Regions from separate parts of the Homo sapiens genome. Here all the other regions are linked to region 3. The links come from fine-mapping of genetic effects on gene expression. A gene starts in region 3. Each other region holds a variant in brackets. All regions are shown on one strand. Distances are between the middles of the regions.

Region 1 (4,239 bases), 110 kb after region 3:
TTGCCACAAACGGATTTTATTTAAAATAAAAATAGGGGTAGGTATTTGACTGATGTCTCTTGGGAGTGTTTTAGAGAAGAGGAATGAATACTGACATGTCCTATCTTCCCAGATGCAGAATTGTAAAACAAACAAACATAATTGCTTTTCACATGTAAAAGAAAACTGGCTTAGAACATACTAGCGTTTTCTTTGCCATGAAGGAGTTCACCTTCAGTGACTAAGCCAGAACTACTAGAGCTGCCAGGCCTAGGGACAGGAGACATTGCCAGTGCTTAGCCAGGCTGGCCAGGACTAACCATCTCTGCAAGGAGTCCACAAGAAGCCTCAGGGCAGCCTTTCCCTGCTCCTATCAATTTGAGTTGAGCAAAAAACCTTTGACCAAATATCAGCTCCATGGCACAACCCACAGTTATGGTGCCCACATGAACTCAGGTTTCTGTTCCCAACCTGAAGCATACAACTTCATGAGGTATTTTATCAAGTTAGATAGTATCAAAAAATATTCCCAGATGAGGGAGGTGTCTGACCAAGACAGTCAGAAGGCCCCTTATCAGCCACTAGACTGGAGGATCAGCCTTCCCTAAGCAGGATTGTTCTCACTGGCCAGTCCTCACATCCGGGAGGGGGAGGAGAGGTGCTAGGGGCTGCAACTGAGAAGGGAGAGATCACCCACCCTATCTGCAGATGAGGGTGTGAGAAGCCAAGTCAGAACACCCCATACTTCCCAGGCCTCTCTCCAAAGTCCTGTTAGAAATCGAATTCCAGGAGACCAGGCAGGGGCAGCCTAGGCCCTGGGCCCCTAGGAAGTGCTCCGTGAACTAGGCCCTGCCCAGGCAGCCTCGGACCCCCTCCTCTGCCCTGCCTCCTGATCCCTGTCCTGCACTGAGCAGGTCTTCGGTGGACTTTATGCGCAGCCACCTCAGGATGAAAATACCACGTCTGCCTCCTGCTGAGGTCCAGCCCAGGAAAGGAAGAAGGGGAACGAAAGATGCCAATGCGATTGCTTTTAAATCACCTCATTACTAAAAGAATCCTCCTTTACCTACGGCACTCAGATCATCAAGCCCTCCCAAATCACTTTTCTTTTTTCAAAAAGTAAAAACCCAAGGCCGTCTTCCCAGTGAAGCCGAGTCTTGGGGCATCCCGTCATTCGTCCCCCGCGCACGGGTCCTTCCCTCCCTGGGCGCCGCAGTTCGGAGCAGGCCGAGGGGGCCGGGCTGCAGGGCCGCGCCGGGCCAGAAGGGCGCGCCCTGGGCAGCGCGGACGCACGCAGCCGGCTCCTCCCGCGCCCCGCTGCACCCCGGCAGGGAGTTCGCCCCCGCTAATGTTTAACCTCCCGAATCGCTGATCCCTCGGACTGCAGCCAAGCTACCCACCCGCCCCGCTCCCGGGACGAATTCCTGGCATAGTTTTCCCGCGCGGCCCGCTCACCGTGGGGTCTCCTGGAGCCGGGGACGGCGGGAAGACGTCTCGAGGTGGCGGCTCCCATACTCGCCCCACGTCCCGCCTCCAGACTTGCTCCACCGCCCCAGACAGCCCAGAGATGGTTCCCGGAATGCTCACCGCCCGCCGTTCCCGGGATGCTTCCCCAGCCCCACGCAGTCCGGGCGCTCTCTGCGGCGGAGGCAGAGCCTGCCCGGCCCACTCCAGTGCCGCCAACCTGCGGGACCGCGGACAGAGAGCTCCTCGGTGCGTCGGTCAGCTCGTGGCTTGGGGTCTCTGGTGCCTCCAGCTCCTACTACAGCCGCCCCGCCCCACCTCAAGAAG[A/T]GGTGGAGCCTCTCCCGGCCCCTCTCGGACGAGCTATTTTTAGGTCTGTAACGGATGGGGGAAGGCGGGAATGCCACGTTTAATCCGTTAGTAAAATCCAGGATCCAAGTGAATGGCTTCCTGGCCTTGCTGAGAGGCTGGACTTGCCCCGGTTTCCCCACACCCTGCCTCCGGTACAATCGATAGCCTGCTGTGCAGGGGCGGCCGCACCCCCCGGGCAGATAGCCCTGCCCACCCTCCTAAAGGGACCGTCCTGGTTTCTTCCTGACCGGATCCCAAGCTAGGAGAGTTCTTTGGGTGTGCCCCAGGTCTGATCAGACAGACAGCAGCCACCTTCCCTCCGCAGCCCCCACCCACCACCCCCTACCCTCCCAACCTGCTGGTTTGCCCTGGGGATGCCAACTTGGAAACCCAGGACTGAAAAACTTATTTTTTCTCCTGATATTAGTCCCTGATCTCTTCCCATAGTAGTAGTTGCTTTGCTGAGATTCCGTTTTGTGGGCACCGTAACTGTGAGTTGTGCCATAGAGCTGATATTTGGTCAAAATGTTTGTTGCTCAACTCAAATTGATAGGAGCAGGGAAAGGCTGCCCTGAGGCTTCTTGTGGACTCCTTGCAGAGATGGTTAGTCCTGGCCAGCCTGGCTAAGCACTGGCAATGTCTCCTGTCCCTAGGCCCGGCAACTCTAGTAGTTCTGGCTTAGTCACTGAAGGTGAACTCCTTCATGGCAAAGAAAACGCTAGTATGTTCTAAGCCAGTTTTCTTTCACATGTGAAAAGCAGTTATGTTTGTTTTACAATTCTGCATCTGGGAAGATAGGACATGTCAGTATTCATTCCTCTTCTCTAGAGCACTCACAAGGGGCATCAGTCAAATACCTACCCCTATTTTTATTTTAAATAAAATCCTTTTGTGGCAAAAACTTAATAGGCATTTGATAAAACCATGGCCACTTAAAAATATCTCCTTAAAGTTGCTGGGAATAGGAGGCCAGGTGTAAGGAGAGCTCTGCGCCTGGTGGAGGGAACCTCTGTCTCGCTGCTTGAAGGTTCTAGGAGTCGCTGCAGCCCCCATGAGGGTCAGGGAAGAGTGGGAAAAAAGCTCCTTTTCACACACACTCTCTCTCTCTCCACTCCGCAACTCTTCTCCCTCCCTCTTTCTCTTTTTTCCATTTCAAAGGCTTTCGTCCCACCACAATCTCAATCTGCCAAGCTCTACATTTTGAGGCAGCCAAAGCAAATGTGTATGGGAACAAGCGTTGTCAAGGACTTGCAGGGAAACTGGAACTCCTGTGCATTGCTGGTGGGAATGTAAAATGGTACCATTACTGTGGATACAGAATGGTAGTTCCTCAAAAAATTAAACAAGAATTGCCAAAAGATCCAACAATTCCATTTCTGGGTATATACCCCAAAGAACTGAAAGCAGGGATTCAAACAGATATTTGTATACTCATGTTCATAATAGCATTATTCACAATAGCCAAAAAGTGGAAACAATTCAAATGTCTATCGACAGATTAATGGATAAGCAAAATGTGGTATATCCATACAATGTAATATTAACTTTAAAAGGGAAGGAAATTCTGACACATGAATGAACCTTGAAAACTGTCTTAGTCTATTCAGGCTGCTATAACAAAATACCATTGAGTGGGTAGCATATAAACAATAGAAGTTTTTTTCTTACAGTTCTGGAGGCTGGGAAGTCCAAAATCAAGACATTGGCAGATTCGGTGCCTGGTGAGGGCCTGTTTCCTGGTTGATAGGCTGTCATCTTCTCACTGCACCCTCACTTAGTAGAAGGGGGCTGGCTAGCTCTCTGGGGTTTCTTTCATAAGGGCACTAGTCCCAATTATGAGGACTCTACCTTCATGACCTAACCACCCCCCAAAGGCCCCACCTCCCAATACCGTCACCTTGGGGGTCAGGATTTCAACCCCATTTTGCAGGGACACAAACATTCAGATCAAGGCAAAAGCATTATGCTAAATGAAATAAGCTGGACACAAAAGGACAAATATTGTATTATTCCACTTATACCTGGAAATATTGTATGATTCCACTTGTACCTAGAATAGTCCATTCACAGAGACAGAAAGTAGAATAGTGGTTACCAGTGGCTGGAGGAGGGGGAATGAGTAGTTATTGATTCATGAGTACAGATTCTCAGTTTGGGAATGATGAAAAAGTTCCAGAGATAAATGGTAGTGATGGTTGCACAATAATGTGAATGTACTTAATGCCACTGAATTGTACACTTGAAAATGGTTACGATGGCAAATTTTACATTATGTACAGTTTATCACAATTTTTTAAACATTAAAAAAAAATAGTGGATGGAGCAGGGACCAGGACTAAGTTGGGATATCTGTGCACCATGTATTCGGATGGGGGATCTTGTTCCTGCCGTCTTCTCCTAGTCAGGGCACTTTTTTCACCCCAGGATTTTCTGCCACCCACAAGAGCA
Region 2 (4,239 bases), 64 kb after region 3:
CTCCCAATTACTATTATTATGCCAAACACACTGTCCATGGCTAACAATGTTTAAAAAACTAAACTGCTGTAAACACAATCCAAGTACCCTTTCAAGACCTATTGGAAGTTGCTCGAGCTTTTGACATCCACCCAGAGCCCATGGGAGGGTCCAGGGAGGCATCTGAATCCAAGATGAGGATTCATGCAAGGTTAGAAAGGAATGTCTTAATCAAATCTGAATATAGGGCCAAAGTTAGAGTAGTCAGTAGTTGAAAACAATCAAAGTAGTGACCATTCTTCCTAAAATAACCCTAGTTGTCTATTTTTTTTTTCTAACTTACTCTACACAAACAGCATTCCAATAGTGTAATGCTTGGCTAATTTAATAATAGGTGTGTTTTTATTTAATAATAGATTTCATTGGTGCTTCTAATAATAACATACGTGTTCTGGTTAAGCACAATGGCATTCAAATACTAGTTGGAGAGAGAATCCATAGACCCTGTAAAGGAACTGGATCACTGCTGCAGACTCCCTGAGATGCCGAAAACCTGAGTCTGCTTGCTTTCTCAATGGGGAGGTTTGTGGTCTGGGGCAAGTTCCCAGCCCTGGTCACTGGCTGCTTGGAAATAGACTTGCTCCTGTTGGTGGGGCACAGTGCGAGTGAGACCGGACTTTAGGACCGCAGGCTGCGTGGAGATGGGCTGAGGCCTGTGACTGCCAGATTTCCCCCACTTCCCTGGCGACCTGTATGACTCAGCAGAGGCAGCCATAATCCCCCTGGGAATATAACTCCATTGGACTGGGAACACACCCTCATCCCCAACAGTAGCTGCAGCAAGCCACACCCAAGGAGAGGCTGAGCTCAGACACGTCTATCCCTGGCCCCACCTGGTGGTCTTCCTGCACCCGCCCTGGTAGCTGAAGACAAAGGTCATAATCCCTTAGGAGCTGTATGGCCCTGCCCACCGCCTGAGAAACCTGAATACTTAACCAGGTGTCCCTAGGGCAAGTAGGGAAGTATGCATCCTCCCTATAGGACCACAGTTTGAAAGCACCACCTCCTAGCTGGAGGCCAACAAACACAAAACCAATGCACTAAACAAACAAAAAGAAAAAACAAGGACCCTCAAGAGTCCACTTCACTCCCCTACTACCTCCACTGGAGCAGGTGCTGGAATAGTATCCACGGCTGCAAGACCTGAAGATGGATCACATCACAGGACTCTTTGCAGACACTCCCCAGTACCAGCCTGTAACTCTACTGGGTGGCTAGACCCAGAAGATCAAAAACAATCACTACAGTTCAGCTCTCAGGAAGCCCCATTCCTAGGGGAAGGGGGAGAGCACTACATCAAGGGAGCACCCCATGGGACAGAAGCATCTGAACAGCAGCTCTTGAATCCCAGATCTTCCCTCTAACATAGTCTACCCAAATGAGAAGGAGCCAGAAAAACAATTCTGGTAATATGACAAGACAAGGTTCTTTAACACCCACAAAAATCATACCAGCTCACCAGCAATGGATCCAAACCAAGACGAATCTCTGAATTGCCAGAAAAAGAATTCAGAAGGTCAATTATTAAGCTAATCAAGGAGGGACCAAAGAAAGGTGAAGCCCACCTTAAAGAAACAAAAAATGTTATACAAGAGATGAAAGGAAAATTTTTTAGTGAAATAGCATAAATAAAAAGTTATCACAACTTCTGGAAATCAAAAACACACTTAGAGAAATGCAAAATACACTGAAAAGTCTCAGCAATAGAATCAAACAAGCAGAAGAAAGAACTTCAGAGCTCAAAGACAAGGCTTTCGAATTAACACAATCCATAGAAGACAAAAAAGAATTTTAAAAAAATGAACAAAGTCTCCAAGAAGCTTGGGACCATGTTAAACATCCAAACCTAAGAATAATTGTTATTCCCAAGGAAGAAGAGAAATCTAAAAGCTTGAAAACATCTTCGAGGGAATAATTGAGGAAAACTTCCCCAGCCTTACTAGAGACCTAGGCATCCAAATACAAGAAGCTCAAAGAACACCTGAGAAATTCATTGCAAAAAGATCATCACCTAAGCACATAGTCAACCGGTTATCTAAAGTCAAGATGAAGGAAAGAATCATAAGAGCTGTGAGGCAAAAGCACCAGGTAACCTATAAAGGAACACCTCTCAGATTAACAGCAGATTTCTCAGCAGAAACCCTACAAGCTAGAAGGGATTGGGGTCCTATTCTTTAGCTTCCTTAAACAAAACAATTATCAGCCAAGAATTTTGTATCCAGTGAAACTAAGCTTCATAAATGAAAGAAAGATACAGTCTTTTCCAGACAAACAAATGCTGAGAGAATCCGCCACTACCAAGCCAGCACTACAAGAACTGCTAAAAGGATCTCTAAATCTT[C/T]TTTTTTAATTTATTTTTTTATTATACTTTAAGTTTTAGGGTACATGTGCACAACATGCAGGTTTGTTACACATGTATACAGAAACAAATCCATGAAATACAACAAAACAGAACCTCCTTAAAGCATAAATCTCATAGGACCTATACAACAATAATACACGAAAAAAAAAAAAGGCAAGGTATTCAGGCAACAAATAGCACAATGAATAGAATAGTACCTCACCTCTCAATACTAACATTGAATGTAAATGGCCTAAATATTCCACTTAAAAGATACAGAATGGCAGAATGGATATGAATTCACCAACCAAGTTTCTGCTGTCTTCAGAAGACTCACCTAAACTCACATTAGGACTCACACAAACTTAAGGTAAAGGGGCGGAAAAAAAACATTCCATGCAAATGGATACCAAAAGCGAGCAGGAGTAGCTATTCTTATAGCAGACAAAACAAACTTTAAAGCAACAGCAGTTAAAAAAGACAAACAGGGACATTACATAATGATAAAAGGACTAGTCTAACAGGAAAATATCATAATTCTAAATATATATGCACCTAACACTGGAGTTTCCAAATTTATAATACAATTGCTACTAGACCGAAGAAATGAGATAGACAGCAACACAATAATAGTGGGGGATTTCAAGACTGCACTGACAGTACTAGACAGGTCATCAAGACAGAAAGTCAACAAAGAAACAATAGACTTAAACTATAACCTAGAACAAATAGACTTAACAGATATTTACAGAACATTCTACCCAACAACTGCAGAATATATATTCTATTCATCAGCACATGGAACATTCTCCAAGATAGACCAGATGATAGGCCACAAAACAAGTCTCAGTAAACTTAAGAAAATCGAAATTATATCAAGCACTCTCTCAGATCACAGTGGAATAAAATTGGAAATCAACTCCAAAAGAAACCCTCAAAACCATGCAAATACATGGAAATTAAATAACCTGTTCCTGAATAATCGTTGGGTCAACAACGAAATCAAGATGGAAACTTAAAAGTTCTTTGACTGAACGATAATAGTGACACAACCTATCAAAACCTCTGGGATACAGCAAGAGCAGTGCTAAGAGGAAAGTTCATGGCATTAAATGCTTACATCAAAAAGTCTGCGGCCTGGCGCGGTGGCTCACGCCTGTAATCTCAGCACCTTGGGAGGCCGAGGTGGGTGGATCAGGAATTCGAGACCATCCTGGCAAACATGGTGAAACCCCGTCTCTACTGGGTGGGGTGGCACGTGCCTGTAATCCCAGCTACTCAGGAAGCTAAGGCAGGAAAATCCCTTGAACCAGGGAGTCGGAGGTTGCAGTGAGCCGAGATCGCACCACTGCACTCCAGCATGGTGACAGAGCGAGATTCGTCTCAAAAAAAAAGGCTGAAAGAGCACAAATAGATAATCTAAGGTCACACCTCATGGAACTGGAGAAACAAGAATAATCCAAACCCAAGGAGACAATGGATCAGGACGAGTGGCTGAGGAGTGGGCCCAGAAGCCTTGGGTAGCAGCACTGGAGGTCCTAAGGACTCCAGACTGTCCTTAAATGAGGAGGGAGCTTCCCAGAGTGGGGATGGTCAGCATCACTAATTACCAGGAAAATGCAAATCAAAACCACAATGTGATACCACCTCACCCCTACAAGAATGGCCATAATCAAAAAATCAAAAATTAATAGACGTTGACATGGATGTGGTGAAAAGGGAACACTTTTACACTGTTGGTGGGAATGTAAACTAGTACAACCACTATGGAAAAGTGTGGAGATTCCTTAAAGAGCTAAAAGGAGATCTACCATTTGATCCAGCAATCCCACTACTGCGTATCTACACTGAGGAAAAGA
Region 3 (4,239 bases):
CACTTTGGGAGGCCGAGGCAGGCAGATCATTTGAGGTCAGGAGTTCGAGGCCAGCCTGACCAACATGGTGAAACCCCATCTCTACTAAAATACAAAAATTAGCTGGGTGTGGTGGCAGGCGCCTGTAATCTCAGCTAGTCAGGAGGCTGAGGCAGGAGAATCGCTTGAACCCAGGAGGTGGAGGTTGCAGTGAGCCAAGATTGCGCCACTGCACTCCAGCCTGGGCGACAGAGTGAGACTCCCTCTCAAAATAAATAAATAAATAAATAAAAACAAAATATATCTGGAAGCCAGGCACAGTGAGTCACGCCTGTAATCCCAGCACTTTGGGAAGCCAAGATAAGCAGATCACTTGAGCTCAGGAATTCGAGCCCAGCGTAAGCAACATGGTGAAACCCTGTCTCTACTAAAAACATAAAAATTAGCCGGGTGTGGTGGTATGCATGTATAGTTCCAAATACTCTGGAGGCTGAGGCATGAGAATTGCTTGAACCCAGGAGGCAGAATTTGCAGTGACCCCGATGACAACACTGCACTCCAGTCTGGGCAACAGAGCAAGACTCCATCTCAAAAAATTTTTAAAAAGTCTCTGGATTCAGAGGCCAGACATACCTGGCCCCCATATCCGTCAACCAATTCTCTAGCAAAATTTAGTTGTATAGACAAAACATAACACCTGATGTCTTCAGCCAAGTCTCTCTACTGTGATTATACAATTCCTAATATTTTGACCAATTCTAGTGAAAACTTTTCTGCAAAATGTAGAAGATAGTGTATGAGATCTGAAAAGGCTCTGGAGTGTTCTAGTTTAGATCTCACATGTTGTGGATGAAGAACCTGTGACCTACAAGGGCTTAGGAGTTTGCCCCCAACCTGCCCAGCACACGACAAGTTAGGGGCAGCATCAGGAGCAGATCCTAAGCCTCTCCGTGACCAGGCCAAGGACTTCAGCCCAGCTAACCCTGGTCCCTCCTCTGGCCTTTGTGGGACCTCCTGTGTCAGCCACAGAGTCCTCATGTGGTTCTTGTGGCACGAGTGAAAGCATGACATGGAAATCAACGGGGTCCCTGGCTTCCTCTCATCCCAGTTCCAATGCTTATGGACCAAGAGCATAGATCTAGGATTTGGCTTCGTGTTCTCAAAAGTGGGGACAATTTTGCCTGCCCCTGCTGCTCCATATGGAAACAGAGAAAGAGCGCTGGACTGGAAGCTGAGGTGGGAGCCCCACCCCTGCCGTTTTTAGAGTATCTGTGGTTCCAGGCACTGGGACAAGTCCCTTAACTTATCTGTACTTTTCTTGACTCACCCCCAAAAAATGGGGATAATAGTGCCTGCCCTACCCATTTCTGTAAGATCAAAATGGAAAGATGTAAGTGAAAAAAGTCGTTCATGAGTTGTGAGGAGAAAATGTGAAAAGTCTGGTTTAAGACAGAGCACGGTGGGTGCTTCCCAGGGGCCATCTTAAGCGAGGTCAGCCAAAGTGGTCTGCAGTCACGTTCCCCGTGGTGGGGACACGTCAGCCTTTTCTCCAGATGGCGGCGCTCTCCGGAGGAGCCGGAGCTGGAGGGAGGCCGGTCTGGCCCGGAGCAGGGAGTCCTTCTGCTCCCTGGCACGGCTCTGCGCTGAACCCACCCGGCCTGCGGAGAGCAGACAAGTGCCTCTTGGGCCCGCTTCTCTAACAAATGTAAAAATAATGCCCTTGAACCAGGAGCGAAACTGAGCTATCTAAGGAAAACACTGTGAGCAAATACTGAGAGCCTAGGGAAACCATCTGATTAGAAGAGCTCCCCTCAGGAGCGCGTTAGCTTCACACCTTCGGCAGCAGGAGGGCGGCAGCTTCTCGCAGGCGGCAGGGCGGGCGGCCAGGATCATGTCCACCACCACATGCCAAGTGGTGGCGTTCCTCCTGTCCATCCTGGGGCTGGCCGGCTGCATCGCGGCCACCGGGATGGACATGTGGAGCACCCAGGACCTGTACGACAACCCCGTCACCTCCGTGTTCCAGTACGAAGGGCTCTGGAGGAGCTGCGTGAGGCAGAGTTCAGGCTTCACCGAATGCAGGCCCTATTTCACCATCCTGGGACTTCCAGGTAGGCACCGTGCACCCCGGGGTAGAGCCAGGTGAACCAGGTGAGCAGGGAAGGGGGCGTTTGCGTTAAGCCCCACTCCCACCTCTGGGTGAGGACCCTGGCAGCTCTGGCTCAGAATGAAAGGTGTGAATAAAAGGAGAAGCTGGCTCGTGTCTAATAGGGCAACAGTCATGCAGGAGAAAATGGGAGGGTTAATACTCAAGGCGAAGGAATCGCTAGTGAGGAGGCAGGCCTCAAGAAGAATGGGTCTATTGTAAGGGTATGTTCATGATACCTGGAATAAACTCGTGTTTCTCAAGGAGAAAATAAATTGTGTGCATTACTTGCATGTGGCTTGCTCCTGCCTGCACATACATGGGAGCAGGGAAGCAGGATGCTGAGTATTTTGTTATATCTGGAAAAGTTTATTGAGAGCTAATTTAATTTTCTTTCCATTTCAATTAAATTTTTCAAAGTTGGAGTCTCTGTGGGTGCCAAAAAGAATATTGCCATTAAATTATAAATATCCTTTTGCTGCATTTGTATTAAGAATATCTTGTATACTGTCCTAAAAATCAATGTATATCAAAATATAATTACAGAATTATAATTATATTATGTCAGAATATAAATATAATTATAAATGTGACATCCTTTCACCCCTAAAGATGAAATAAATTAAACCCCTGCTTTTAATATAGATAATTACTTCAAATATGCATCATAGCAACTTTGCATTCTGAATAATATGGGAGCTCTATTTGTATTTTTAAAATGCAAACAAGAAAATAATAGCTCTAGCTAATTAGTGGCTCTAAGGGGTGGCCAAGATGTGAGTGTGATGGAGAAAGGAGAACAATGTCTCTGAAACAAATACCTTTTATAAACAAGTAGATGGAAATAAATTTGCAAGAAATTGTGAAGAGGCTGTAGAGCCCTTGAAACTGAATTGAATTGTGAAAAGCAATTCAACTAATCCAAGTTCATTTTCAGAAAGAAATAGAAGATGGGTGTCAGAGTAGAAGAATTTGATTATTTATTCCATTTTTTGGAAGCCACTTATTGCAGGACCAACAGGATGACTGACTCCGGGGAAAGACCTGCTTAGGGAAGCAAGGGAGGTAGAACCTGGCCAAAAGAAAGAGAACCAGACTGAGGAGGGATTATGCTGTAGTGGGAGGGGAGAGGTGAGATGCAGGAAATGCCACACAGAGTGTTGAGTTGCTAGTTATGTCTAATTTTAACTATCATATAAAGAAAAAATATTGTCCTCATATTCAAAATTAAGGCATGATGTCTTATGACTTCATGTTCAATAACCTCTCCCCAGGGCCCCACTACATATTATCAATCTCTTGCTCACTGTGTATCACAGTCTCCATACATGGGGCTCCTGAATATTCCCACTCTCCTAAATGGGCAAACCCCATTGCGTCCACTGTGACTTGTCACTCCTATTCTGTCAACGGATCTTATCTCCATGACACCCTCTCAGAATAGCTCCACCTCTCCCCCTTGATGGAACAAGATTATCTTCCCTGCTTTCCTGCTAAGGTCAACCTCTCCTGCTAAGGTCAACCTCCCCAGCAGGGCTCTGAAGGCCTCATGCCACCTGTCTGGGATCATGCCCTGTTGGTCAGCCCCTCTCCTCCTTGCCTCTTTCATCTCTTCTCCTCACTTATGCATATGGCCTCCTTCCTGGGGAAATCTGTTGATCCTGATCATTGTCAAGTTCTGTCTCTCTCCTGGGTCACTGACAAACCAAATTAAAAGACTAAGTTTTTCCACTACCTCTCACCCTTAACCTTTCTCAGTCTGGTTTCTATCCTTCATCTCTATAGAATGTTTGCTTTTTTGACCATAGCAGAGGATGAAGGGGAGTATTTCAGTCACCAACTCCTAGTTCTCAGTTCTCATCTCCTTAGACATTTCAAAACCCAAACAACTTCCACGGTTCCCCATTCCCAGCTTAACTAGGTGCACACATAACAGCCTGACACCAAGCCTTCCTAACCCCTCACCTACCTTCCTTGGCAGTCTCTTACTCCCCCATCCTGTTTCTTCTGTCCTTTCAGTATACCTTGGACTTGGTCCTGGACATCCATTGCTCCTGCTCCCCTGAATTCCCCCCTCCACCACCCCAACTGTCCTCTCACAAATCTTCCTCCAA

What was found. PIP is the estimated chance that this variant, and not a neighbour inherited with it, causes the effect.
Region 1: its variant is the best candidate, but not a certain one, in a credible set for the expression of CLDN18 in thyroid (GTEx, PIP 0.72).
Region 2: its variant is the best candidate, but not a certain one, in a credible set for the expression of CLDN18 in esophagus muscle (GTEx, PIP 0.54).

What each region holds. Positions count from the first base shown.
Region 1 is chr3:138,113,894-138,118,132 of GRCh38, forward strand. It overlaps DZIP1L (DAZ interacting zinc finger protein 1 like), which reads right to left and starts at 1,715. Exons shown (of 16, transcript NM_173543.3): 1 at 1,435-1,715. RefSeq lists enhancers at 1,026-1,527, 1,528-2,027 and a silencer at 1,150-1,369. The variant A/T (reference allele first, on the strand shown) is at 1,771.
Region 2 is chr3:138,072,192-138,076,430 of GRCh38, forward strand. All of the region lies in intron 11 of DZIP1L (DAZ interacting zinc finger protein 1 like), which reads right to left. Among named protein-coding and RNA genes, the nearest start is that of DZIP1L, 41 kb to the right of the region's middle. The variant C/T (reference allele first, on the strand shown) is at 2,381.
Region 3 is chr3:138,008,356-138,012,594 of GRCh38, forward strand. It overlaps CLDN18 (claudin 18), which reads left to right and starts at 1,810. Exons shown (of 5, transcript NM_016369.4): 1 at 1,810-2,090. The coding sequence starts at 1,871.